Linked DNA regions of Homo sapiens. The gene in region 2 interacts genetically with the main gene of each other region. Each region holds a gene or a part of one and is shown on either strand. Other genes may lie near its edges. The genes, in order: TRAPPC13, SLC39A9, NUDC, SLC39A3, EP300, CARM1 and SEC23B.

What was found.
Region 1: changes in SLC39A9 (region 2) and TRAPPC13 together harm fitness more than expected from each alone (negative genetic interaction), as found in Homo sapiens cells (one large-scale study listed by BioGRID).
Region 3: changes in SLC39A9 (region 2) and NUDC together harm fitness more than expected from each alone (negative genetic interaction), as found in Homo sapiens cells (one large-scale study listed by BioGRID).
Region 4: changes in SLC39A9 (region 2) and SLC39A3 together harm fitness less than expected from each alone (positive genetic interaction), as found in Homo sapiens cells (one large-scale study listed by BioGRID).
Region 5: changes in SLC39A9 (region 2) and EP300 together harm fitness less than expected from each alone (positive genetic interaction), as found in Homo sapiens cells (one large-scale study listed by BioGRID).
Region 6: changes in SLC39A9 (region 2) and CARM1 together harm fitness less than expected from each alone (positive genetic interaction), as found in Homo sapiens cells (one large-scale study listed by BioGRID).
Region 7: changes in SLC39A9 (region 2) and SEC23B together harm fitness less than expected from each alone (positive genetic interaction), as found in Homo sapiens cells (one large-scale study listed by BioGRID).

Annotation. Positions count from the first base shown.
Region 1 is NC_000005.10:65,659,503-65,663,612, forward strand, and holds part of TRAPPC13 (trafficking protein particle complex subunit 13), read left to right. Parts: intron 1-1,196; coding exon 1,197-1,395; intron 1,396-2,547; coding exon 2,548-2,648; intron 2,649-4,110.
Region 2 is NC_000014.9:69,450,436-69,454,545, reverse strand, and holds part of SLC39A9 (zinc transporter ZIP9), read right to left. Parts: intron 1,306-4,110; coding exon 1,237-1,305; intron 1-1,236. UniProt on the Homo sapiens protein: Transports zinc ions across cell and organelle membranes into the cytoplasm and regulates intracellular zinc homeostasis. Participates in the zinc ions efflux out of the secretory compartments.
Region 3 is NC_000001.11:26,941,801-26,945,910, forward strand, and holds part of NUDC (nuclear migration protein nudC), read left to right. Parts: coding exon 1-18; intron 19-859; coding exon 860-976; intron 977-1,070; coding exon 1,071-1,265; intron 1,266-3,589; coding exon 3,590-3,673; intron 3,674-3,767; coding exon 3,768-3,886; intron 3,887-4,110. UniProt on the Homo sapiens protein: Plays a role in neurogenesis and neuronal migration. Necessary for correct formation of mitotic spindles and chromosome separation during mitosis. Necessary for cytokinesis and cell proliferation.
Region 4 is NC_000019.10:2,731,776-2,734,882, reverse strand, and holds the end of SLC39A3 (zinc transporter ZIP3), read left to right. Parts: exon of another isoform or gene 1-357; intron 358-1,397; coding exon 1,398-2,132; 3' UTR 2,133-2,359; downstream 2,360-3,107. UniProt on the Homo sapiens protein: Transporter for the divalent cation Zn(2+). Mediates the influx of Zn(2+) into cells from extracellular space. Controls Zn(2+) accumulation into dentate gyrus granule cells in the hippocampus.
Region 5 is NC_000022.11:41,144,291-41,148,400, forward strand, and holds part of EP300 (histone acetyltransferase p300), read left to right. Parts: intron 1-2,448; coding exon 2,449-2,526; intron 2,527-3,546; coding exon 3,547-3,656; intron 3,657-4,110. UniProt on the Homo sapiens protein: Functions as a histone acetyltransferase and regulates transcription via chromatin remodeling. Acetylates all four core histones in nucleosomes. Histone acetylation gives an epigenetic tag for transcriptional activation.
Region 6 is NC_000019.10:10,874,354-10,878,463, forward strand, and holds part of CARM1 (histone-arginine methyltransferase CARM1), read left to right. Parts: intron 1-4,110. UniProt on the Homo sapiens protein: Methylates (mono- and asymmetric dimethylation) the guanidino nitrogens of arginyl residues in several proteins involved in DNA packaging, transcription regulation, pre-mRNA splicing, and mRNA stability.
Region 7 is NC_000020.11:18,514,262-18,518,371, reverse strand, and holds part of SEC23B (protein transport protein Sec23B), read right to left. Parts: intron 2,723-4,110; coding exon 2,636-2,722; intron 1-2,635. UniProt on the Homo sapiens protein: Component of the coat protein complex II (COPII) which promotes the formation of transport vesicles from the endoplasmic reticulum (ER).

The DNA.
Region 1 (4,110 bases), on a different chromosome or scaffold from region 2:
GGAATGGTAGAGAAGTTAAAAAGAGTAAGGGTGAATGTGGGTTTAAAAAAAGAAATACTCTCTCAACATCAAAAGAAAAGGACATAGGAATAGATGGTTTAATACTTTGTGAAAAGGAAATACATACACCTTTCCACAGCTAATTTAAAAGAGGAAGAATAAATGTAAAGTTGACAATAATACAGATAAGAAAGTAATAGGCTGGGTGTGGTGGCTCATGCCTGTAATCCTAACCCTTTGGAAGGCTGAGGCCAGAGGATTGCTTGAAGCTATGAGTTCTAGACCAACCTGGGCAACTTGGCATTTTTTTTATTTAGCTGGGCATGGTGGTACACTCCTGCATTCCTAGCTCCTTGGGAGAGAGGCAGGAAAATCGCTTGAGTCCACAAGTTCAAGGCTGCAGTGAGCCATGATTGCACCACTGTACTCCAGCCTGGTGACAGAGAGAGACCTTGTATTTTAAACAAAAAAAAAAAAAAAAAAAAAAAGAAGAAGAAGAAGAAGAAGGTAATAGCTTGGGATAGCATCTGAATTTCTTAATTAGGAATGAAAAGTTTGCTTTTATATTCTTAGGTTGGTTACACACAGAAAAGTTCATAGCCTCTTTCATCCTCACTGAGGAAAACAATTTTCCATTCTTTTCTAGATGTTTTAGTTCATTTTGAAAATTAGTTTAGAATGGTATGTCTCTTATTATTCTAAACTCTTATCTTTGATAATTTTAGAGAAAAGAGACAGGATACTTAAGGTTCTGGTTTCTGTTGCACTTTTCAGTTAATTGATACATGTTCAATTTTATAAGTAATATATTACATTCTATTATAAAGAACCTCCTTGAACCCAGAAGTTAGAAGTTACAGTGAGCTATGATCATACCACTGTACTCCAGCCTGGGTGACAGAGCAAGACCCTGTCTCTTAAAATTATTTAAAAAAAAAAAAAGGGACCCCTGCCTTTCGGGGTCCAATTACTATAAAGAACCTCAAGATTTTCGATATCAACTGAAAAAAATGAAGGAAAAATAAATCATTGCAGTATACGTTCTTTTTATTTGTATTGAAATCGTTAACATGTTCTGTTGTTGATCTTTGGAGGGTACATCATCCAGTTCCTATCCAAAGGAACAATCACAGCCATGGTTTTTCTTTTAAAAGATGCTAGAGAATTTTCTCCGTCTCTGTCTCCACCCCTCTCAGTGTGTCTACGTTTGGGTCAAGAGCATATTTGCAACCAATGGATACACGCCAGTACTTATACTGCCTAAAGCCAAAGAATGAATTTGCAGAAAAAGCAGGCATCATTAAGGGAGTAACAGTAATTGGAAAATTGGATATAGTATGGAAAACAAATCTAGGTGAAAGGGGAAGGTTACAGACCAGCCAACTTCAAAGAATGGTGAGTCTGGAAAAAACTTCGCTGGGGTTTTGGTGTGTGAAAGACAGGTAGTTAGAACAACTTAATTTTTTCTACATCCAGCAGTAAAAAATTGGAGCACTATAAAAGGCATTACTACTACTGGAGCAGAAAAGATTAATAGTGTCACTGATAGGTAGGTCGAAGACTGGTGTTGCCATGAATGAAAAATGGTCAAATGTTAATTTATCCTTAATACACGTGTTCTTTATCACACAGAAATTAAAATAACTGTTATTAAGTGTCTCTCCTTTGGTAACACATGCTCACTCTTCTTCTGATTTCCAAACACATTAAGGTTTTCTATTTTGCAATGTCCTGAAACTCTTGGACTTACTTCATTCACCTACTCAGTTCCTACCATTTTTAAGATGTTAAAAATCTGAGGCATCTCCTCAGAAGGTGAGTTCTACTAAAGTTATCTTATAAGCATTGGTTGCATATTTTACCTAATTTCTTCTCTGAGAGTAGGGATAGCTACCAGGCTTCTTTTTCTTATGCTTGTAAGAATATACGACAGGATTCTCCTCCCTTTATGCTGAATATTACCTGTTTTGACATATTCCAAATTTTACTTTTCTTTCCACTGTTTGAGGCAATAATTTTTAAAAAATGATGATGATGATTCCTGGGCCCACTTAAATATAGCCGTTAGTTATTTTTCTGCCATGGCCTGTTCCAAGCCTTCGTGTTGTTATAATCCATCCTCATCTGTGCGTCTTGTAAAAAGTCATGATTTTCTTCCTGGCTCCTTTCAACATCATCCCCCTCTTTCTTTAGAAAATAACTTTACCTATTTAGAGTTACACACATAGAAGCTACAGCATCTGGAAAGTGTCCCTTCAACTCCCTGAAATTTCTTTACTGACTACTTACCTGTGAGATTCATCTTAACTCTACTGAACATGGAATAATTATATAACAAAAACAGTCCAGGTCTGCCAGGCTATTCCACAGGCAGTAGCTGCAAAAGAATTTAAAATGAGAGACAAGTAAAGTGAATCAGAAGTATTTTCTTAGAACATCAGCTTGGAAACCCAACAGCTGTTGAGTAAATGTGCTGCTGTGGTGCCTTCATTAAAATGGAAAGGTTTTGTGATAGATATACATTAACTGTGTTGCTTGTTTTCTTAGGCTCCAGGTTATGGAGATGTTAGGTTGTCTTTGGAGGCAATACCAGATACCGTAAACCTTGAAGAACCTTTTCATATTACCTGTAAAATAACAAACTGCAGGTAATGCCACTGTTTGTAGATGGATGTCCTTTCTACCTCACCTGCCTAGAAGATAATTTTAAAATCTTTTTGTTACTATCTCCTTTTAAGTTTTCCTCTTGACATACAGCCTTCTCTGATGTTGATATTGAGTACTGTAAAATTCTTCATCTGGTAGCAGTATAATTACATATTTTTAAGGGCCTATTGTATTATGCATCTTCTGTATTTTATTTCATTCATTTGTCACACCCTATGAGGTAGGTATTCATTGTTTATACTTCCTTCACCAAAACATGAACTAATAGGTTCTTATGTATTAATATATTATGAATTGAAGTAGCAAGATTTTTTGAGGCATGCTTGTACTTGAGCTGTATCTTGAGTATTAAGAAACCAAACATTGCTTATGGATTTAATGTAAGGGGAGATCATTGATTCGAAAACTGGGTTTTGACAGTAAAGAGAGAGCATAATCTGAACTGTCAGGAAGCAAAGAGCACAGGGCTTTGAAACCAGAAAAAAATAGAATTAAGTTCCAGTCCTATGCCCTCTGCTCCTACTTGTATTACCACTTGGTTTGTATTATTATTTGGGGTATTTTTATAATATTGCAGTGATGAATCCTAGTCCTCTTAGTGTGAATGTATAATCCTTTTAATTCCATATTTATTCTTTTTGGTATTAGAAAGATAGGAAATATTTATCCTTCAAAATTACAGAAATACCCACTTCCTCTATGAAGCTACCTAGACTTTCCAAAGCACAGGTATTCATGCCTTCTCCATCATAGAAAATTTTAACTTAGTTTTTTAGTGACACTCATATATTGTGTATTTAGTGACACTCATATATTACTGTAAGTATTAGTCTCTTTCTCACTGGACTGGAATTATTCAGGAGAAGGGACATGGCCTTACTCAGTGTCTGCCACATCGTGAGCTCAGTAAACAACAATACAGGGCAAAGACCCTGTGCTTATAGGGTGTTACAGGGTGTTGGGGAATTTTTGGTTTTTTTTTTAAGTTTTTTCAGCAAATCAGTTTATTGACCAGCTCACAAGTGTTATTTTTTTCAAAAGTTAACTTCTCTTGGTGTTCACTTTAACTTTTGGTGATTCATACAAGTTTTCTAAAAAGCACATGTCTCTTAGATCTTTAGTTTCCTCTCTATATAAATGTCATTCCCTGCCCCTACACACCAGGGACATGCACAGACACATGCACACAACATATATAAGTCTTACTGGATTTTTGTGAAATTAACAATATTCATGTAGTGCATCCACCTTGGTCTCTGGCACATAGTAGCCATCTCAAATGCTTGTTAGGGAGATTCAGGCATATACAAGTTAATATTATAAAGTCAATATGTCTAAAAAAAATAAAATTTAAATAAGCAATTTAAAATTTGGAGCCAAGTATAAGAATAAACAGCTAAAAGCCATAAGTAGCCGTGAATGGTGGTAGGAGACTATTTTTCA
Region 2 (4,110 bases):
TGTTATTGGAAAACTAACATTCAATTTTCCAACTAATCAAAAATCCATTGATTAGTTAATCAAATTCTAACAAGGGAAATACCAAAGAAGAATTTCAAAGGAAGCATCTCTTAATCTTATAGGTTAAGAAACAAAATAGTCCCAGCTACTTGGGAGGCTGAGGCAGGAGGATTGCTTAAACCCGGGAGGTGGAGCTTGCAATGAGCCGAATCGTGCCAGTGCACTCCAGCCTCGGCAACAGAGTGAGACTCCGTCTCAAAAAAAGAAATAAATAAAATAAAGATACTAGAACTCTATATAGATGATTACTACTTAATAAGTAAACACTGGTTGAATGAATGAAATTTGTTAGAAAAGCATATTATACTTAGAAAGGGCCAGGTAACAGTGTACCACCTTTCACATGCCTTTCTTTGCCACTGACAGAATTCTATTACTAGGACTAGGTTTGGGTTATGATTCTAAAGTGTACCCTGTCAGCAATGCTAAGATCTCTGCATTCCACTGCATACCACTTCTGCTTAAACTGGTGTTTTGCATATAAACTGGTAACAGAGCTGTTCAGGACAGAAGCGCCAAGGCTCTTTTCCAGATGACATTCTAGAGCCAAGAATGAAAAGAGCAAACTTCTTCTTAAGAGCTAGACAGTAAATATTTGAGGCTTTGCAGTTATTTGGTCTCTTGCAACTGTTCAATTCTGCCACTGTTGCACAAAAACAAAAGAGATGGATCATTGTCATTGTCTATCTCTTCCTCAGCCTCCTGCAACTTTATCTTCATTCTAACATCAGTCACATTTGCCTTTCTCCATTTTTTATTGCCATCACCCTAACCTAAATTTTCATCACTCAAACAAACCTAAATCAGCAATAGGTTCCCTACTCTCATTTTTCCCTAATCAAATTCACTGTCACAAACAATACATAAATACATGGGCAAGGCTGTGTTCCAATAAAACTTCCTTAATTTGAATTATATAATTCTCATGTGCTACAGTATGTTCCTCTCTCTCTTTTTTTTTTTAAACCATTAAAAAGTATAGAAACCATTCTTAGCTTGCAAACCCCTGACACTGAGCACACCAAGCTTGTGCTTGTGTTGGAGGACTTCATTAAGAAACCTTTTCCTCAAAGGCCAGTCCAAGAGCATTCAATGAGGACGGTCCCTGAAATATAAACACTAAGGTCTCCCCTGTGCGATAGAAAACAAAGAAGTTCCACTGCAATCCAACCCTACCTGCAGCATGGACAACCAGACCCAGCGTGGTGGTGATTTTGGAATTGCTAGACCTTGCTGCTTCTGGATCTAAAGTGAAAATGAGAAAGACAGCGTTAAGCTATGTGAGACAGAAACTGTTCAAACATTGGTCTGGAGGTGAAAGAATTTCACTAATGTTGGCCAGGCTGGTCTCAAACTCCTGACCTCCAATGATCCGCCCGCCTCACCCTCCCAAAGTGTTGAGATGATAGGCGTGAGCCACCGCACCCGGCCACTATCTTTTTTCTTTCTGCTTCAAACCCTTAGAAGATTTCCCTGTCCTGAAGAGGTGGCTAAGAGGGAACTCTTCATTTGACTCAGCCCTACCTTAACAGAAAAATCACTGAAATGTGTAACCCCCAATGGCCCCAACTTCCTCCTATTCCTTAATCCTCTTCCTCTACTATTCCAAGGAAAGTGATCTATGGCCTCTGATCATTTCTTTCCAGACCAATCTAATTGTCATTGTCTATCTCTTCCTTAGCATCCTGCAACTTTATCTTCATTCTAACATCTGTCACATTTTTATTGCCATCACCCTAACCTAAATTTTCATCACTCAAACCTAAATTAGCATCAGGTTCCCTACTCTCATTTTTCCCTAATATAATTAATCTTACACATCCGTGTCAGATTCATCGTTTGAAAACACCACCCTTGGCCGGGCACAGTAGCTCACACCTGTAATCCCAGCACTTTGGGAGGCCGAGGCAGGTGGATCACCTGAGGTCAGGAGTTTGAGACCAGCCTGACCAACATGGTGAAACCACGTTTCTACTAAAAAATATAAAAATTAGCTGAGTATGGTGGCGGGCGCCTGTAATCTCGGCTACTTGGGAGCTGAGGCAGGAGAACTGCTTGAACCCAGGAGGCAGAAGTTGCAATGAGCCGAGATTGTGCCATTGCCCTCCAGCCTGGGCAACAAGAGTGAAACTCCGTCTCAAAAACAAACAAACAAAAAACCCACCACCCTTATGATGTGTCAGTTACCATTTAAGAATCTGCTGCTTTTCAAATTCAGGGCAAACTGCTATATTAGATAGGTTCTTAAGCCCTTTATCAACTAGTTCCAACTTATTTCTCAATGTCCAGTCTAGTTAAACCAGTTTGCTTAACACCATCGAACAAAACCTTCTTATTCTCCTTTCCCCAAGTCTCCTCACCTGTAATTCTTGGCACATACTGAACTTCTCAGCTTGTTAAGCCAAAACTTGGACATCAATCAAAGTCTAACTACAGAACCACTTCCCTCAAGAAAGAATAAAAAATTGAAGACTAAGCATGGTGGCTCATGCCTGTAATCTCAGCAGTCTGGGAGGTCGATGGGGGAGGATCACTTGAGGCCAGGAGTTTGAGACCAGCCTGGGCAACATCACAAGACCCTATCTCTACAAAATTTTTAAAATTTAGCCAAGTGTGGTGGTGCATGCCTGTAGTCCCAGGTATCTAGGAGGTTAAGGTGGAAGGATCACTTGTGCCTAGGAGTTTAAGGCTGCAACAAGCTATGCTCATGCCACTGGACTCCAGCCCGGGTGACAGAGCAAGACCTTGTCTCAAGAAAAATTAAAAATAAATTTAAAAAATTGATTCCAGCTCAAAGCAACTCTCCCCTTGCCTAGACCTAGTGATCTATGCAGGCAGTCTTCAAAGGTTCCTCTATACACCACCTCAGATATACAAAGCCATTTTCACTTGAATGTTTTCTATCCCCAGATGGACTGTAAATGCTAAAGCATTAAATTTTCTACCTCTCTTTTCCTTTAACATGTCTGACAGAATGTAGCACAGCACTAGGCACCCAATAGTTACTTAATAAATCCTTGCTGAAGAGTGAAAAAAGCATTTATGTGTATTAAATAAAGATGTTACTGCTCTTGTAGGAAACATACAAGTAAATAAAGTTAAAAGATGGGGACATCAAAATGCCAGGTAAAATGACAGATGAACATCAGTCAAGTAAGTTACAGGGGATTTAATCTTCTTAGGAGTCCAGCATACAAAAGGAAGGGGTTTACAATGGAAAAAGTATACAAGTAAAGTAAGATATTACCTCTTATTAATAAATGATATTTTCCTATTAAAACACTGCAAAGAAGGGAAGCTAAAGACCCTAATCACTCTGCGCCAGCAAATAGCTCAATGCTACCCTGAACTGGAAGGAACAGTCAAATTACACTGTGTGCAAGCTGGCTCTGGCCTTTTTTTATACAAAGGCTTATCATCCAGTTATACTTAGGATCTTAAACAATTAGAGGCTTTAAAATTAGAAAGTTTTTATAAACCTATAAAGACTGCAGTTTAGCATAAATTTAATAAATACATTTTATTGACATTTTATAATACATAAAACTCTGCAGAAAATAGGTAAAACCAGGTCATCAGACACGAAAGCCAGCAAAAATAATGACTTCAGAGATAAAACAGGAAGAAGAATAATGGAACACAAGCTACATTTAACTCTCTGTATAGGATTACTGGCTACTACTGCGCCCACACATTTTATTTTTATTTTTTTAGAGACAGAGTCTTGCTTGTTGCCCAGGCTGGAGTGAAGTGGTGCGATCACAGCTCACTGCAGCCTCGAACTGAAATGATTCTCCCTCGCATCTCAGCCACCTGAGTAGCTGTGATTACAGGCAAGTGCCACTATGCCTGGCTAATTTTTAAAGTACTTTTTTGTAGAGATGGGTCTTGCTGTGTTGTCCAGGCTGGTCTCAAACTCCTGACCTCAAGCCATCTTCCCACTTTGGCCTCCCAAAGTGCTGGGATTACAGGCGTGCACCATTGTGACTGGCCTGACAATCACCATATATATCTTTAGAATCAGGTTTTTTTTAAAAAATCATTCGTTAA
Region 3 (4,110 bases), on a different chromosome or scaffold from region 2:
GACTCCCCAGGGAAGCAGGTGAGATGGACTGCAGGGACTTGGGATGAGCCAGGAGCTTGGAACTTACAGGAAATCTCCTGCCTACTGCTTTCTCTGGAATACCCTTCCTTATCCTATCCCCTCCCCTCCTGGCTTTGGGAATCTTCCCCATACTTTAAGATCACACTCAGAGACATTGAACCAAAGGATCCAGGTTAAAAAAATAAAAACCTGCCAGGCGCAGTGGCTCACACCTGTAATCCCAGCACTTTGGGAGGCCGAGGTGGGTAAATCACGAGGTCTGGAGTTCAAGACCAACTTGGCCAAGATGGTGAAACCCCATCTCTACTAAAAATACAAAAATTAGCCAGGCATGGTGGTGGGCGCCCGTAATCCCAGCTACTCGGGAGGCTGAGGCAGAGAATTGCTTGAACCCGGGAGGCGGAGGTTGCCATGAGCCGAGATCACGCCACTGCACTCCAGCCTGGGCGACAGAGCAAGACTCCGTCCCAAAAAAATAAAATAAAAACCGACTGACCTTAACCTGTTTATGGCAAGAAAACCCAATAGCCAGAGAGGGCAGTGCCTATTACAGGTCCCATCTGAGGTTGGCTGGGTTCTGTGGGCCCAGCCATATCCTTTGTCACATGGTATAATATTAATAGTCTGAGCTCCTCTCAGACTGAGATCAGAACCAAGTTTTACCTGGTTCCCAGTGGACCAAGGCTTGGGGGTCTGCCCCTCTGTGGAGTGGGCAGGGACCAGGTCTGTTTTCTTTTGTGGCTGTATGCCCAGTGCTAGCCCTGGGCTTGGCCCAGTGAGGGTTCAATCTGTGTCTTGTCTGTCAAGTAAGTAGCTGAGTGTCCCTGATTGTAAGCAGGATACTGAGGAAGATGAGGAGGAAGATGAGAAGGACAAAGGAAAACTGAAGCCCAACCTAGGCAACGGGGCAGACCTGCCCAATTACCGCTGGACCCAGACCCTGTCGGAGCTGGACGTGAGTGTCAGGGACCAGAGGTAAAGCTTAGGGGGCCAGCCTGGGGTACCAGCAGCACTTAGTGGCCTCTTCTGACTGCCTCTGCCCTATGCAGCTGGCGGTCCCTTTCTGTGTGAACTTCCGGCTGAAAGGGAAGGACATGGTGGTGGACATCCAGCGGCGGCACCTCCGGGTGGGGCTCAAGGGGCAGCCAGCGATCATTGATGGGGAGCTCTACAATGAAGTGAAGGTGGAGGAGAGCTCGTGGCTCATTGAGGACGGCAAGGTGGTGACTGTGCATCTGGAGAAGGTATGTGAGGCCCAGCCCTTCTAGCCTGGGGTGTTGATGGAAGTAGAAGGGAGGATGTGTGCTTAGTTTACTCAGGAGCCATGCTGGGGGCATTGTGGGATTATCTTAATCCCCATGACAACACTCTTTAAAGTAGATCTGTCTCTATTTTATTTTCTTAAAGACAAGGTCTCACTCTGTTGCCCAGGCTGAAGTGCAGTAACACCTTCTTAGCTCACTGCAGCCTTGAACCCTTGGGCCCAAGCAATTCTCTCGCCTCGTCCTCCTGAGTAGCTAAGACTACAGGTGTACACCACCACGCTCGGCTAATTTTTGTTATTAAATTTTTTTGTAGAGACCGGGGGGTCTCACTATATTTCCCAGGCTGGTCTTGAACTCCTGGCCTCAAGTGATCTTCACACCTTGGCCTCCCAAAGTGCTGAGATTACAGGCTTGAGTCAGGAAAAGAGCTCGTTGATTTACCCAAGCTCCTACCTCTGGGAAGGGGTGGAGTCAGAATTGAAAGTCTTAGTTTCTAAAGCCACTTCTTTTTCACTAGGTTTGTACATGCATTCAATTCATCAAATACTTGAACACCTGCTCTGTGCCTGGTACTGTTCTTGTTCTAAGTGCTGGAAAGAGAACAGTGAACAAAACATAGGAAAATATGTGCCCTCAGGAAGCCTTCATTCTCAACCTCACTGCCTTTACAGAGAGGTAGGACACAGAGATCAGTAAATAAAGGTGGTCTGAAAAGGGCCAAGGGTCTGAGGAGAACTTCCCAGGGCACATAAGACCCTGTAACAGCCTGTCCGACTGGCACTGGCTGCCTTCACTCACTCACCCCTCCATGCCTCTGCACTTGCTTTGTCGCCCAGGCTGGAGTGCAGTGGCGCGATCTCGGCTCACTGCGAGCTCCGCCTCCTGGGTTCATGCCATTCTCCTGCTTCAGCCTCCAGTGTAGCTGGGACTACAGGCGCCCGCCACCATGCCTGTATTTTTTTTTTTGTCTGTTTTGTTTTCTATTTTTTAGTAGAGACAGGGTTTCACCGTGTTAGCCAGGATGGTCTCGATCTCCTGACCTTGTGATCCGCCCACCTCGGCCTCCCAAAGTGCTGGGATTACAGGTGTGAGCCACCATGCCCAGCCCTTTCCCTGCCTTTTAAATTTATTTTTTATTTTTTGAGACAGGGTCTTGTTCTCACCCAGGCTGGAATGCAGTGGCGCAATCACGGCTTACTGCAGCCTTGACCTCCCGGGCTCAAACGACCCTCCCACCTCAGCTTCCTGAGTAACTGCGAGCGCCACCCTACCTGGCTAATTTTTAAATGTTTTTTGTAAAGACAGGGTCTCATGTTGCCCAGGCTGGTCTGAAACTCCTGGGCTCAAGGGATCTTCCTGCCTTGGCTTCCCAAAGTGTTGGGATTACAGGTAGGAGCCACTGCACCTGGCACTTCCCTGCTTAAAAACTTTTTCTGGCTGGGCGTGGTAGCTCATGCCTGTAATCCTAGCGCTTTGGGAGGCTGAGGTGGGCAGATCACGAGGTCAGGAGTTTGAGACCAGCCTGGCCAAGATGGCAAACCCCATCTCTAATAAAAATACAAAAAATTAGCTGGGCATGGTGGTGGGCGCCTGTAATCCCAGCTACTTGGGAGTCTGAGGCAGGAGAATCGCTTGAACCCAGGAGGTGGAGGTTGCAGTGAGCTGACTGCACCACTGCACATGGTGGCTCACACCTGTAATCCCAACACTTTGGGAGACTGAGGCAGGCAGATCATCTGAGGTCAGGAGTTTGAGACCAGCCTGGCCCAATATGGTGAAGCCCCGTCTCTACTAAAAATACAAAAATTAGCCAGGTGTGGTGGTGCATGCCTATAATCCCAGTTACTCGGGAGGCTGAGGCCGGAGAATTGCTTGAACCCGGGAGGCAGAGGTTGCAGTGAGCCGAGATGGTGCCACAGCACTCCAGCCTGGACAAGAAGAACAAGACTCCATCTCAAAAAATATATATATTTATTTTCTTCCCATTTTAAATCTGGAATACTGCTTTGTGTCTTAAGACTCAGCCCGAGTGTCACTTTCAAACTTTTCTCCCTCCACCCTGGATGAATATCTCCCTTTCTGCTTTCTTCTTTCCCTTATCACACTGATTTGTAACTCTTTGCCTCTGTGTCTCCCCTAGCTGCAGGAAGGGCACAGTCTTGTACCTCTGGATCCAGTGTAGGCCTGCAAGGGTCTCAGGTGCAGGATGTGGATGGGAGAGAGTTTGGTTGTGAAAGGGTTAAGGGGTGATTCCTGGTGCACAGAGCAGGCCACCTCCCACCCTCTGGTTGTTCTCTTCACAGATCAATAAGATGGAGTGGTGGAGCCGCTTGGTGTCCAGTGACCCTGAGATCAACACCAAGAAGATTAACCCTGAGAATTCCAAGGTGAGCCCTGGCTGGTTGGGGGAGCTTCAGCAGGAAGGTGAGGGGCCTCGTTGTTTCCAGAGCTTCACCGATTCCTGTCACTGCCTGCCCTCAGCTGTCAGACCTGGACAGTGAGACTCGCAGCATGGTGGAAAAGATGATGTATGACCAGCGACAGAAGTCCATGGGGCTGCCAACTTCAGACGAACAGAAGAAACAGGAGATTCTGAAGAAGTGAGCAATTCAGAGACGGGGTTGGGGGACCGTGGGTGCCTGGGGGCTTAGACTTCGGTGACAGCAGTGAGTGGATCACTGCGCTGCCTCAGGAGCTGCCCTGCCCCCTTTCCAGCCATGTTTATGGCTTTATGGCTTTGGCTTGCCTACTCTTGTCATTTGCTGAGGTCATCTTGAGGGCAAGGCCGGCTCATGGTGCATGATAGGAGGGAAGGGGTAACAGG
Region 4 (3,107 bases), on a different chromosome or scaffold from region 2:
TGTCTCTTGGGAGTAGCTAGAGTTCCTCATGAGCTTGTCCTCAAGCGAGGCATGCATGAGGCCTCCAGCCGGTGGTCAGTGAGGGAGTTAAGTGGCTTCTCCGTGGAAACACAGCCTTCTGCTGCAGCAGAGGCTCACCCAGCGTGAACTGCCCCCAGGGAACACTGGGCGATGCCTGGGGACATTGTGGTTGTCACGATGGGGGGTGCTCCTGGCCTGGAGTGGGTGGAGGCCAGAGACACTGCTCAGCAGCACCCTGCAGTGCCCAGGACGGCCCCGTCCCAGAGAACAATCCAGCCCCGAATGTCAGCACCTTCCCCCTACCCGAGTTGTGAAAATAAAAAATGTTTCCAGACATTGCCAGGTGTCCACACGGGCAGAATCGCCCTGGTTGAGAACCACTGTGTGCGCGTGCTTGTGTGTGCACCTGCGTGTGCGCGTGTGTGTGCGTGCGTGTGTGCACATATGCGTGTGTGTGTGTGTGTGTGCACGTGCGCAGGTTGTAATGAAGTCTCCGCTGGGAAGGAAGCAGGGAAGCAGGCATTGTTGAGTGTCGATTGTGTTGTGATTTTCCTCCACTTTGGTCTCGAGGTCTCTCTGGAGGGTGGCTGTGAACTCTGGCCCTGCCGTGACGAGGCTCCAGGGAGCTGTTGTGGGCGTTTACAGCCTGCCTTTCATGAGACATTTCATCCTGGCGCATAGCCTAATGCCTGCGTGTCCGCCCCGTGAGCAGCTGTCCCTCCCATAGGAGTGTGTACCTCTTGCAGACGCCCTGCGGCTCCCGTCTGACCCACGTCTAGTTTCTCCCCACCAAAGTCTCCCCTCGCTAGGAGAGCCCTGACCAGGAGGAGAGTCGGGCCCAGGCATGTCGGTCAGGGAAGCAGAGAGGAGGCCCCGCGGCAGAACACGCAAGGCCAGTGCAGCTCTTTATGTGTTTATTTTGAGCCGGAGTCTCCCTCTGTCGCCCAGGCTGGAGTGCAGTGGCACGATCTCGTCTCACTGCAACCTCTGCCTCCTGGGTTCAAGCCATTCTCCTGCCTCAGCCTCCTGAGTAGCTGGGATTACAGGTGCTCGCCACCATGCCCAGCTAATTTTTGTATTTTTAGTAGAAACATGTTTCCCCATATTGGCCAGGCTGGTCTCGAACTCCTGGGCTCAAGCAATCCGCCAGCCTCAGTCTCCCAAAATGCTGGGGTCACAGGCATGAGCCACCGCGCTTGGCTGGTGGTGGTGGTGTTAATTCATCACAGGCGAGCCCTTCCTCTCCCACTTGTTTTAACCTCTGTGTGAATCGGGGATTTCTGGACTTTGCTTTGAACGGTGACATCTGGCCAGCCCTGTCGCCGCCACCCCTGAGCGTGGGTCTCTCTCTCTCTCTCGGGTGTCCCCGGCTGCAGCTCCAGAAGGTCCTGAGCCTCGGCCACATCAGCACCGACTACCCGCTGGCCGAAACCATCCTCCTGCTGGGCTTCTTCATGACCGTCTTCCTGGAGCAGCTGATCCTGACCTTCCGCAAGGAGAAGCCGTCCTTCATCGACCTGGAGACCTTCAACGCCGGATCGGACGTGGGCAGCGACTCGGAGTATGAGAGCCCCTTCATGGGGGGCGCGCGGGGCCACGCGCTGTACGTGGAGCCCCACGGCCACGGCCCCAGCCTGAGCGTGCAGGGCCTCTCGCGCGCCAGCCCCGTGCGCCTGCTCAGCCTGGCCTTCGCGCTGTCGGCCCACTCGGTCTTTGAGGGCCTGGCCCTGGGCCTGCAGGAGGAGGGGGAGAAAGTGGTGAGCCTGTTCGTGGGGGTGGCCGTCCACGAGACACTGGTGGCCGTGGCCCTGGGCATCAGCATGGCCCGGAGTGCCATGCCCCTGCGGGACGCGGCCAAGCTGGCGGTCACCGTAAGCGCCATGATCCCCCTGGGCATCGGCCTGGGCCTGGGCATTGAGAGCGCCCAGGGCGTGCCGGGCAGCGTGGCGTCCGTGCTGCTGCAGGGCCTGGCGGGCGGCACCTTCCTCTTCATCACCTTCCTGGAGATCCTGGCCAAGGAGCTGGAGGAGAAGAGTGACCGTCTGCTCAAGGTCCTCTTCCTGGTGCTGGGCTACACCGTCCTGGCCGGGATGGTCTTCCTCAAGTGGTGAGCGGCCTCGCCATTGTCCCTGCCGCCGGAGCCCGCCGGGAGCCCCGGGCCGGACACAGGCCGCGTCCCCCGGCCGCGCGTCCCCCAAGAGCGAGCACTGTGGCCCTGGGCCACCACCTGTGCACAAGGGGCCTCCCGGGACCAGGCTGTGCCCCCGATCCTACACCCTGAGCCTCAGAGCACTGCTACTTTTTAAAATACTTCTTTCTCTTAAAAGTCTTTACCAAAGCTGTGTGGCCATGTCAACCTCGGGCCGTGGGGTGTGGCAACCCACGGGCGGGAGGGCCAGGACCTGGGTCCCGGTGAGATCGGTCAGGACCCTCCTCTCCCTGCCGCACACCCCCAGCCTGTGAATAAGGACGGGAGCATTTGGCTGCTGTGGCCAGAGTGAGGGCCGCGCCGCCTGTGCCTCAGGAGCCAGCTGGGGGCCCTGAGGCCCCAACGTCTACCCTACTCTGTTGCCAGGATCTCGCCGCCCGAGCCCCGAGTGTCTTGAGGCTTATTAGAGGTTGGAGTCACTGCGATGGGACAGCCGGGCTCCGTCCCTCCTGCCACACAAGGCTGTACCCCCTGTGAGTGGGCCATGTACCCTCAGGAGTGCCCTCTCCTTTTCCCTTTGCTGGGTGGCTCCTGGAGCGGGGACCCCTGGGCCAGGACCCCCGGGCCAGGTGAGTGTCACAGTTTCCTGAGACTCACGAGCAGGGCCAGGAGGCAGCTTAAAGATCAGTCCTCAGCTCTGCTTACACACACCGGGGTCTCCAGAGGAAGATGGACCCCACTAGCGGTGGGGCAGGGGCCCCGCGGTGCGATCCCTCCCGTGGACACAGGGACGCTGCTCCCGAGAGGGCAGGAGCACGGGGGACGAGCAGCCGGGCGTGGGCTGGGGCAGCCCTGGGCTCCTGGCTCTGTGGCAACCTCCGGAAGGCCTGAGCCGTCGTCCCGGCAACCCTGCCGGGTCTGGGGAGGTGAGAGCTGG
Region 5 (4,110 bases), on a different chromosome or scaffold from region 2:
CATATATATTGAAATGTGAAAGATGGACATTTTTGTTTGTGTATATTTTCTTTACCTCTAAATATTTATATATATACATTTTTGAGATGGGGTCTGTTTCGCCCAGCCTGGAGTGCAGTGGTGTGATCTCGGCTCACTGCATCCTCCATGCCTCCCAAGCTCAAGCAATCCTCCCACTTCAGCCCCCCAAGTAGCTGGGACCACAGGCACACGCCACCATGCCTGGCTAATTTTTTTTTATTTTTTAGTAGAAACAGGGTTTCTGTATGTTGCCCAGACTAGTCTCGAACTCCTGAGCTCAAGATATCCACCCACCTCGGCCTCCCAAAATGCTGAAATTACAGGTGTGACCCACTGCGCCCAGCCTTTAAATATTTATCTTAAAAAATAGTATCAAGATGTTCCTTTAAATAATTCATCAAGTTTCCTTAAAATGACAAGAGCTGCCTCATGGAGCAATAATAGATACATTCGTATCTGCATCATATGGGGCAAATGTGGGCAGTAGGATTGCGGTTTTATTTTTAAACCATTTTCATTTGATTAGTCTCAAATACTTAAAAATCAGAAGATTTTGCATTTAAAAAGTCTGAATTTCTGGCTGCTTTAAAAAAAAAAGGACATGTCTGGCAGACTTGACCCCCTTTCTCCTACAGTGACACCTGTCTATAGCTGCACTCATGGCTGACTCTAGAAGAGCTGTGTTTTCTCTCCACTTCAGTCCTCACCATTCTCTATTGTTTTGGGTACTTAAAACAGTTTTACTTGGTATTAGCTGCTTGGCACTTGCCATTTAGCTTGGAACACCTATCCATATTGTTGACTTGAAAAAAAAGTTACTCATATCTTAGGTGAAAACATTGTTTTGTAGATAGTGTGCGTGAATACAGATATGTGTGGGGAGGAAGAGGAAAGGTTTATCTCAAGGTCATTTGTTGGATCCTGATTCATTTTTCTATTGATTTTTAATTTTTATGTAATGAGCATGGATTATGCATATACTTCTTATAAAGCTTGCAGAGTTACAGATAAAAGTTTATATGAATAAATGTTGAGCATTTCCTCTCTCAGTTTTGCTCATTTACTAAAGGTTGAAATTTGTCTGAAGGGATGGACATCTCCTTAGAAGAGCAGCAGGTCTTCCTCTCCTATGCCTGAGGCTTGAATGTACAGCCCTTGATGGAGGGTATGGCCAGGGTGGAGCCAGGTCACTACAGACATCTGTCCTTTCCGAGGGTGCTGTAAAAATATTTTCTCTGTGCACTATGTTGAAAGTACTACACTAGAGCATGTGCAGATAATCCAGGAAAAAGACCTTAGAATTTATGTATTTATATTTTAGGTTTTTTTTGAGACGGAGTCTCGCTCTGTCGCCCAGGCTGGAGTGCAGTGGCACGATCTCAGCTTACTGCAAGCTCCACCTCCCGGGGTCATGCCCCGGGTTCACGCCATTCTCCTGCCTCAGCCTCCCGAGTAGCTGGGACTACAGGCGCCTGCCACCACGCCCGGCTATTTTTTTGTATTTTTAGTAGAGACGGGTTTCACCGTGCTATCTAGGATGGTCTCGATCTCCTGACCTCGTGATCCGCCCGCCTCGGCCTCCCAAAGTGCTGGGATTACAGGATATTTTATTTTTTTAAGAATTATTTCTGTTTTTGTATTTAAGAGGTACATGATATGTAGTGTGGTATAATATGCATATTATTTAAAATCAATGTTCACAGTTTATGTGCATAAAAACGTTGTGCTACATGATCAAATTCGGCCACCATTAGACATGATTCATAGCTATTATCCATGGAGATACTCTGTTGCATGCCAACCAGACTCAGACTTTGTTAAACAATAACATATTAAATGCTATGATGGCCTCAATTTTTTTTTTTTTTTTTGAGACAGAGTCTTGCTCCATCGCCCAGGCTGGAGTGCAGTCGTGTGATCTTGGCTCACTGCAACCTCCGCCTTCCAGGTTCATGCGATTCTCCTGCCTCAGCCTCCTGAGTAGCTGGGATTACAGGTGCCTGCCACCACGCCTGGCTAATTTTTTTGTATTTTTAGTAGAGACAGGGTTTCGCCATGTTGGCTAGGCTGGTTTTGAACTCCTGACCTCAAGTGATCCACCCACCTCAGCCTCCCAAAGTGCCAGGATTACAGGCGTGAGCCACTGTGCCTGGCCTATAATGGCTTCAATAGCTTATTTTTCTATCAACATTGAAAGCACCCGGGCTCATAAAGGAATACCAACAAATCCACTTGGAGGCATTTTTCTGTATTCCAGAAATAACATTTTCTTCAAGCTTCTGTCTAGTTCAGAGCTTTATTTTGTGATTCATACTCAATTTTCAAAGGTATTATTAAAAATATTTTGTGGGGTTTGTGTGTGCAGTGAGTTTTTGTTTGGTTAAGGGAAGATGGTGCAAAGATACTTATTTCTCTTTTTTACTCTAGATGGCCCTCTACCTGACCCAAGTATGATCCGTGGCAGTGTGCCAAACCAGATGATGCCTCGAATAACTCCACAATCTGGTAAATAGTGAAAAAAATTTTTTTATTTTAAAAGAATCCCCGGTGTACTGCAAGATAATACTTGCTACCTGAACACCCGCTTTATGCCAACAGCAAGTGTCATGATTACCTGCCCATAGAGGAAGAGGGGGTGAAGAGCAGGTTGGCTGGCAGATCACAGGGCAGGTGACATTAAATGATCAAGTATCCATTAAAAAACAACTGCAGGCTGGGCATGGTGGCTCACGCTTGTAATCCCAGCACTTTGGGAGGCCGAGGCTGGTGTACCACCTGAGGTCAAAGTACGAGACCAGCCTGGCCAATGTGGTGAAACCCTGTCTCTACTAAAAATACAAAAAAATTAGCCGGTTGTAGTGGCACGGGCCTGTAATCCCATTTACTCTGGAGGCTGAGGCTGGAGAATCACTTGAACCCAGGAGGCGGAGTTTGCAGTGAGGCGAGATCGCGCCACTGGACCCCAGCCTGAGTGACAGCAAGACTTCGTCTCAAAAAAAAAAAAAAAAGCAGATTGTAAAATTTGTAAAATTCAGTTTGGAGATCCTGTTAGTTGATAATGTCTGTTTACTGCTACTGTGAATGAGACAGATTTATTTATACTTAGAAGGTTGAAAGCCAGTTTATTAGTCCTGATAGAATCAGGGCCAGGTGCGGTGGCTCACGCCTGTAATCCCAGCACTTTGGGAGGCTGAGGCGGGCAGATCACAAGGTCAGGAGATAGAGACCATCCTGGCTAACACAGTGAAACCCCCGTCTCTACTAAAAATACAAAAAATTAGCTGGGTGTGGTGGCGGACGCCTGTAGTCCCAGCTACTCAGGAGGCTGAGGCAGGAGAATGGTGTGAACCCAGGTGGCAGAGCTTGCAGTGAGCGGAGATTGCGCCACTGCACTCCAGCCTGGGCGACAGAGCAAGACTCCGTCTCAAAAAAAAAAAAAGATACAGAATCAGACATAAGAATTCTATCTTTTATTATTCAATTTCACAAAGGCATTCAGATCTAACATTTTGCTCATATTCACAGGTTTGAATCAATTTGGCCAGATGAGCATGGCCCAGCCCCCTATTGTACCCCGGCAAACCCCTCCTCTTCAGCACCATGGACAGTTGGCTCAACCTGGAGCTCTCAACCCGGTTAGTTTGACGTCTTTGGTAATCTCTTTGGCCTTTACCTGGTATTTTGAAAATCCTGTTTGTTCCTACTTTATAAATTCTCACAGTCATTTAAACAGACCATAACTCCTAGTTCTTCTGTAATTCTTCTGTATTTAACTCTACTAGAAAGCTGACCAAAAAACGAAAACAGCCAGTCCCTTGTCCCTGGAGTGTCAGTGTTTAGTGGCCTGCATGCGTTTTCACGGTCACTTCTCTTCCCTGATGTCTGTCTTCCCTCCTCCAGGCAGAGAACTGTCTTGCAAGGTTGATGGTGCGTTTTTGCCTGGTTCTTGAACTCGGAGAAGAGAGACTAGGCTTCTCCTGCTCCTTATGCGAACTCTTAACCAGTCCATCTCTCTACCTTGACCCTAACCCTCCTGCTGCCCTTTAGAGTTAGCTGGTGCCTCTGATTCTTGACCCTTTTGGGGGTTCC
Region 6 (4,110 bases), on a different chromosome or scaffold from region 2:
CTTTTTTGTTTTTTTTCTTTCTTTTTTATTTTTTTTATTTTTATTTTTTATTTTTTCAGACAGGGCCTCACTCTGTTGCTCAGACTGGAGTGCAGTGGTACAGTCTCAGTCTCAGCTCACTGCAGCCTTCCATGGCTAAAGTGATCCTCATACCTCAGCCTCCCTAGTAGCTGGGACCACAGGCATGTGCCACACCCAGCTAATCTTTCATATTTTTTGTAGAGAAAGGGTTTTCACTGTGTTGGCCAGGCTGGTCTCAAACTCCTGGGCTCAAGTGATCCTCCCTCCTTGGCCTCCCACAGTCCTGGAATTACAGGCATGAGCCACCGCACCGCCCTCTTTATCCTTAAGTAACATTGATATGGAGATAAAAAACATGGGTTCTTGGCCAGGCGTGGTGGCTCACACCTGTAATCCCAGCACTTTGAGAGGTTGAGGCAGGCGAATCACTTGAGGTCAGGAGGTTGAGACCAGCTTGGCCAACATGGCAAAATCTCGTCTCTGCTAAAAATGCAAAAATTAGCCAGGTGTGGTGGTACCTGCGACTGTAGTCCCAGCTACTCCGGAGGATGAGGTGGGAGGATCGCTTGAACCAGGGAAGCAGAGGTTACAGTGAGCTGAGATTGCACCACTGCATGTCAGCCTGGGTGACAGAGCAAGACCCTGTCTGAAAAAAAAAAAAAAAGCATGGGTTCTGGAGTTGGAGGTGATCAGTGCTGGGTGTATTAATTTCCCATGGCTGCAATAACAAATTATGACAGATTTTTGGTTTAAGACAACAGGAATGGATTCTCTCTCAGTTCATGGTCAGAAGTCTGAAATCATGGTACTGGCAGGGCCACAATCCCTGGAGAGGTTCTACAGGAAAATCCTTGCATCTTCCAGATTGCAGTGGATCCAGCTGTTGCTTGATTTGCAGCAGCGAAACCCAAGTCCCTGCGTCTGTCTTCACTCCTGTGTCTTGTGTCCTCTTTTTTCCTTTTTTTTTTAAAGTGAGATGGAGTCTCGCCGTGTTATAGGCTGGTCTCGAACTCCTAGGCTCAAGTGATCCTCCCACCTCAGCTGTTCTTTTCTTTTCTTTTTTTTTTTGAGACGGAGTCTGGCTCTGTCACCCAGGCTGAAGTGCAATTGCGCGATCTCCGCTTACTGCAAGCTCTGCCTCCTGGGTTCAGGCCATTCTCCTGCCTCAGCCTCCCGGGTAGCTGGGACTACAGGCGCCCGCCACCACGCCCGGCTAATTCTTTGTATTTTTAGTAGAGACGGGGTTTCACCGTGTTAGCCAGGATGGTCTCCATCTCCTGACCTCGTGATCTGCCCACCTTGGCCTCCCAAAGTGCTGGGATTACAGGCTTGAGCCACCGTGCCCGGCCCCAGCTGTTCTTTTCTTATAAGGACACTGGGCATTGGATTTAGGGCCCACTTTATATCTAGGATGATCTCATCTCAAGATCCTTATCTGCAAAGACCCTATTTCCTAATAAGGTCACCTTCACAGATTCCAGGGGTTACAACTTGGATGTCTGTCTTTTTTTTTTTTTTGAGATGGAATTTTGCCCAGGCTGGAGTGCAATGGCGTGATCTCGGCTCACTGCAACCTCTGCCTCCCGGGTTCGAGCGATTCGCCTGCTTTGGCCTCCCAAAGTCCTGGGATTACAGGGATTAGAGGCATGTGCCACCATGCCCGGTTAATTTTTTTTGTATTTTTAGTAGAGATGGGGTTTCTCCGTGTTGGTCAGGCTGGTCTCGAACTCCTGACCTCAGGTGATCCGCCCACCTTGGCCTCCTAAAGTGCTGGGATTACAGGTGTGAGCCACCGCCACCAGCCTCACATATGGCTAATTTTTAAGTTTCTTCTAGCGATGCGGTCTCACTATTTTGCCCAGGCTGGTCTTGAACTCCTGGGCTCAAGCAGTCCTCCTGCCTTGGCCTCCCAAAGTGCTAGGATTACAGACGTGAGCCACTGCGCCCGGCCAATAAATATTTATGTCCATGTTACTGACAGCAGTGTTCGTTGGTGTGGCATGGGAATGAGCTAGCTTTTCTAGGAGGAGCCCCCTATGCTCCAGGGCTGCCCCGCTGTCTTGGCTCACCGGCCATGGGAGGGAGTCCTGGGCCATGATCTGTACCTAACATAGGAGGCCCAGGAGAGGCACGTGGGGAGGACTTCCAGCCCTGTTCCTTGACGTCTGCACCCTCCAGGGGAAGGATGACAGCTGCAGAAGGGCCTGTCTCTGTCACTCTGTAGTGAACAGTTACTTCTTGCCATCTGAAGTCACCCTGGCCTACGTCCATGAGATTGGCCAAATGGCAACTACCAACACCAGGCCATTTTCCCTGTGCAGAGGGGGAGGCCCTTTGGCGTGGGCTTCCTGGGCTTGAGGAAGCTTTGGCATGGCCTCTGGAGTTCCTGGGCATAGGCTGCCCTCCCTTGGAAAGGAGGCAGTTTCTCAGGGAGGGGTGCCGGGAAAGAGAACAGAACAAACTCTCACTTCCCCAGCCCTGTGGCGCTCTTTCTGGAAATGACTGTGTCACTTTTCTTTCTTGGTCAGCACGAGTCAGTGTGGCCAGTGCTTTAGACTCTCCCATCCCCTTGGCTCAGAAGCTTACACAGCAGCATGGGCTCCGTCAGGGGCTAAACTTCAGTTTGTGAGGGGCATGCCATGGGGTGGAAAGTTCAGAGAAAAACCCTTTGTCCAAAGAAGGTGAAGAATGGCCTGCTGTCACCGAACCAGGGGCCCTTGTGACTTCCTTTGGTTACACTCCTGGGATCCCCCTGACAGCTGGGGCAGGGGTATAGAAGAGCTTGTTATGTGCCCCATCTTTAGGACATCTCGGTGTCAAGCTGGAGTGACAACAGGGAAAGTTAGTAACCCCAGAAAGGCATTTGTGTTTCAGCGGTGCCTGCGTGTGGCTAATGGATACCGTCATTTATTGAGCATTTATCCCGTACCAGACTGTGCATAAACTTGTGTTGACTCAAAATGCTTGACCTTGGGGGCAGCTAGGGAAAGGGCAGTGATATAAATTAGGCCTATGGGCCACATTGAGCCTGTGGCCTATTTTTATCTGTGTTTGTATTTTATTAGTGAGACAGAGTCTCACTGTGTTGCCCAGGCTGGAGTGCAATGGCATGGTCTTGGCTCACTGTAACCTCCACCTCCCAGGTTCAAGTGATTCTCATGCCTCACCCTCCTGAGTAGCTGGGATTACAGGCCTGTGCCACCACCCTGGCTAATTTTTGTATTTTTAGTAGAGACAGGGTTTCACCATCTTGGCCAGGCTGGCCTCGAACTCCTGACCTCAAATAATCTGCCTGCCTCAGCCTCCCAAAATGCTGGGATTACAGGTGCGAGCCACCGCACCCAGCCTGTGTTTTATTATTTATTTATTTTGAGATGGAATCTCGCTCTGTTGCCCAGGCTGGAATGCAGTGGCGCAATCTCGGCTCACTGCAACCTCTGCCTCCCAGGTTCAAGCGATTCTCCTGTCTCAGCCTCCCGAGTAGCTGGGATTACAGGCACATGCCGCCATGCCCAGCTAATTTTTTGTATTTTAGTAGCTCACTGCAGCCTCTAACTCCTGGGCTCAAGTGATCCTCTGGCCTCATCCTCCCAAGTAGCTGGGACTACAAGCACATGTCACCACCCTTGGCTAATTTAAGCAATTTTTTTAGAGACAGAGTCTTGCTGTGTTTCCCAGGCTGGCCCCAAACCCCTGGCCTCAAACCATCCTCCTCCTGCCTGAGCCTCAGAAGTAGCTGGGATTATAGTCACGAACCGCTGGGCCCGGTGTGGCCTATTTTTGTACAGACAAAGCTAAGAAAGGCTTTTACAGTTTTTGAGAGATTGATTAGGGAAAAAAACTAAAACCCAATCCACAAACAACAATAATCAGTTGAGACCACAGTGTCCTGCAAAACCTGAAATATTTACTCACTGGCCCGAGGCAGGGGAAGCTTGTAGACCCCTGGGATAAATGAATGAGGCAGGCAGGAGTTGGGGTCTGTGGGGAGTTTGGCCCCAGCCAAAAGAGAAACCAAAAAATCCTCAGGCCGAATAGAGCATACTTCTGAATTGTGTGAGCCCCTTGTGCCAATTGTGGCGCTTACTG
Region 7 (4,110 bases), on a different chromosome or scaffold from region 2:
GCTCAGGGATTTGCCCCTGCTCGGGACTGGCAAATTGACTTTACTCACATGCCCTGAGTCAGGAAACTAAAATACCTCTTGGTCTAGGTAGACACTTTCACTGGATGGGTAGAGGCCTTTCCCACAGGGTCTGAGAAGGCCACTGCAGTCATTTTTTCCCTTTTGTCAGACATAATTCCTTGGTTTGGCCTTCCCACCTCTATACAGTCCGATAACGGACCAGCCTTTATTAGTCAAATCACCCAAACAGTTTTTCAGGCTCTTGGTATTCAGTGAAAACTTCATACCCCTTACCATCCTCAATCTTCAGGAACGGTAGGACAAACTAATGGTCTTTTAAAAACACACCTCACCAAGCTCAGCCTCCAACTTAACAAAAAGGACTCTGTCAAGAATAGAGCCCAAAAACTCACCAACCAAACAAGTAATTACACTGAACTCCCTTGGACACTCTCTAATTGGATGTCCTGGGTCCTCCCAATTCTTAGTCCTCTAATACCTGTTTTTCTCCTTCTCTTATTTGGACCTTGTGTCTTTCATTTAGTTTCTCAATTCATAGAAAACCACATCCAGGCCATCACCAATAATTCTATACGACAAATGCTCCTTCTAACAACCCCACAACATCACCCCTTACGCCAAAATCTTTCTTCAGTTGAATCTCTCCCACTGTAGGTTCCCACGCTGCCCCTAATCCCGCTAGAAGCAGTCCTGAGAAACATCGCCCATTAATCTCTCCATATCACCCCCAAAATTTTTTCACTGCTCCAACACTTCACTATTTTGTTTTGCTTTTCTTATTAATATAACAACACAGGAATGTCAGGCCTCTGAACCCAAGCCAAGCCATCATATCCCCTATGACCTGCACGTATACATCCAGATGGCCTGAAGCAACTGAAAATTCACAAAAGAAGTGAAAATAGCCTTAACTGATGACATTCCACCTGTGATTTGTTTCTGCCCCACCCTAACTGATCAATGTACTTTGTAATCTCCCCCACCCTTAAGAAGGGTCTTTGTAATTCTCCCCACCCTTGAGAACGTACTTTGTGAGATCCACCTCCTGCCCACAAAACATTGCTCGTAACTCCACTGCCTATCCCAAAACCTATAAGAACTAATGATAATCCACCACCCTTTGCTGACTCCTTTTTCGGACTCAGCCTGCCTGCACCCAGGTGAAATCAAGAGCCTTGTTGCTCACACAAAGCCTGTTTGGTGGTCTCTTCACACGGACACATGAGATAATTATTTCCGATAAAAATGGAATAAAACTAGAAATCAATAACAGAAGAAAGCAAAAATATCAACATATATATGGAAATTAAACTCACTTTTGAGCATGCTCATGTTCAAGGGTTGTAAGACTTAATATTGTGAAGATGTTCATGCTGCCTAGTGAACTACAGATTCAATGCAATCCCTTTTCAATTAACAATTTTTTTTTTTTAGAAATAGAAAAAGTAACCAACAAATTATACGGAATCTCAAAGGACAATAAAGAGCCTAAAAATGTGGCCGGGTGCGGTGGCTCACGCCTGTAATCCCAGCACTTTCGGAAGCCGAGGTGGGTGGATCACAAGGTCAGGAGAACGAGACCATCCTGGCTAACATGGTGAAACCCCGTCTCTACTAAAAATATTAAAAAAATTAGCCGGGCGTGGTGGCAGGCGCCTGTAATCCCAGCTACTCGGGAGGCTGAGGTAGGAGAATGGCGTGAACCCGAGAGGCAGAGCTTGCAGTGAGCCGAGATCGTGCCACTGCACTCCAGCCTGGGCAACAGAGCAAGACTCCATCTCAGAAGAAAAAAAAAAAAAGAAAAAGAAAAAAAAAAGAGCCCAAAAATGTTTAAAAAAAAGAAACAATGTCACCTTTTCTAATTTCAAAGCACATTACAAAGCTACAGTAATAAAAACAGTTTAGTTCTGGCATAAAGACAGACAAGTTTTCCAATAAAACACAATGTAGCAGAAATGCAAACCTCCAACATATGGGTAAACAGTTATTTGAACAGCTATATTCATTGAAGCATTATTCACAAAGGCCAATATTTGAAAGCAAAACAAACTTTCCTCACTGAATAAATGAATAAATACAATTTGTAAAAAAAAAAAAAAAAAGAATTACTGTGGCTGCTGGGTGAAGAATAATGTATAAATAGGCAATGGTAACATCAGGGAGAACAATTAGAAGATTCAAGTAAGAAGGAGTGGCTGGCCCAGGGCAGCTGGTAGTAGGGAGGGGGAAGTGGGTGGATTCTGGATAAATTTCAAATATAGAGCCAATGGGATTTTCCAGTGAATTAGATATGGAACATGAAAGAGAGAGGTCAAGGATAAGTCTAAGGTTCTGAAGCTAAACAACTAGATGATGGAGTACCATCAACTGAGATGAAGAAGGCTACAGAGAACAGGTTTGGAATTTAATCAGTTCTACCTTTTTAGTAGCCTTCTATAATGTCAGGACTTGAAAACAATGCCAGTAGATGCACACACATCAAACCTAAAGGTTAGGATCCTGCTGCCCTCACAGCTTTAAGTCCCCTGCCCAGGTAAGAGACATGGAAGACAAAGGATTTCAAGAGAAATTCAGTATTTAACATTGCTCATTAAATGCACAACAAAGAAATTACCTGTATCACGTACTCAATTGTAGAAAACTGGGGCATCAATTCGGCAGGTTGATTCACCTCAGATATGCCTCCATAAGCTGGAGGAAACTGAAAAGAAGGAAACAGTTTTATTAGGGTTGGCATAACTATATTACACTTTTTATTTTCCATGTGTAAAAATGATAATGATGCCAAGACGAGAGGAACACTTGAGCTCAGGAGCTCCAGACTAGCTTGGGCAACACTGTGAGACCCTGTCTGTATACAAGAAGTAAAAACATTAGTTGGGCGTGGTGGCTCACACCTGTAGTCCCAGCTACTCAGAAGGCTGAGGTGGGAGGATCACTTGAACCCAGGAGGTTAAGGCTGCAGTGAGCCATGATTGCGCCACTGCACTCCAGCCTGGGAAACAGAGCAAGACTCTGTCTCAAAAAAGAAGAAAAAAAATGGTAATGACCATGTATTTATTCTGAAAGCACAAAATACAGGACACGTTAAAAAACATAAAAATCAGCATTTAAAACTTCTAACCCTGCCTTATATTTATATCATTTCTGTCCTCTTAAAAAATATTTTTTAGAGCAGTTTTAAGCTATTGTAACTTCTAAATGTTTAAAAGCACACTTTATGTTGCCCAGGCTGGTCTTGAACTCCTGGTTTCAAGTGATTTTCTCCCCTCAGTCTCCCAAAGTGCTGGGATTACAGGCATAAGCCACCATGCCTAGCCAAAAACACACAAATGAAAACCATTTCTTAAGTTTTGCCCTGCAAATTAAAGGCTGAGATTTCACCTATCTCATCAATAGTTAATAGTCTAAATAAAGCCAAAGACTTTATTTAGGTTTATTATTTTGGCTATTATCAATAAAGTAATACATACGGAATGTAGAAAAATTGGCAAGTCCAGGAAAATAGAAGCAAACAAAGGAGGAAAAGCCCCCCAAAATCCTATCACCTAGAAGCAGCTACTGTCAACCTCCTGGCAGATTTCCTTCCAGACTTAAGCACAGTTGAGAACATCCCATATATACAATGTGGAACTTGTTTTTTCCAGTCAACATAATGCCACAGGCATTTTCTTTTGTTTTTAAAACTCTCTGCAAATGTTTTAAATTCACAGCTTGTGGGTTGGCTTATAATCCAAATAGTCTTTAGCTTTACATTAAAAATACAAGTTGAGGTGCATCTCCCCAAAGTGAGCAGATGATCACTCCAGGCCAGTGACCTCAGAGTGACCAAATGCAAGTGCTGCTGAGGAGCTGACAGGCAGCTTTAGGGGCCTCTGGTTGGGAGAGAAGGGTACAACTGAGCTTGCGAGCCCCAGCAAGAATCTCAGTCAGAGCCAGCAGAAGACTCTAGCCCCATCCTGGCCATGACTGCCCACTGACTGCAGCTCCCAGCAGGGATAAGCTCGATCTATGACTACAGACACACCAGCCACCTCCCAGCAACCTGGAGAGGCCCTGTTCACCCACGCAGTCAGCCAGCTGCACAGA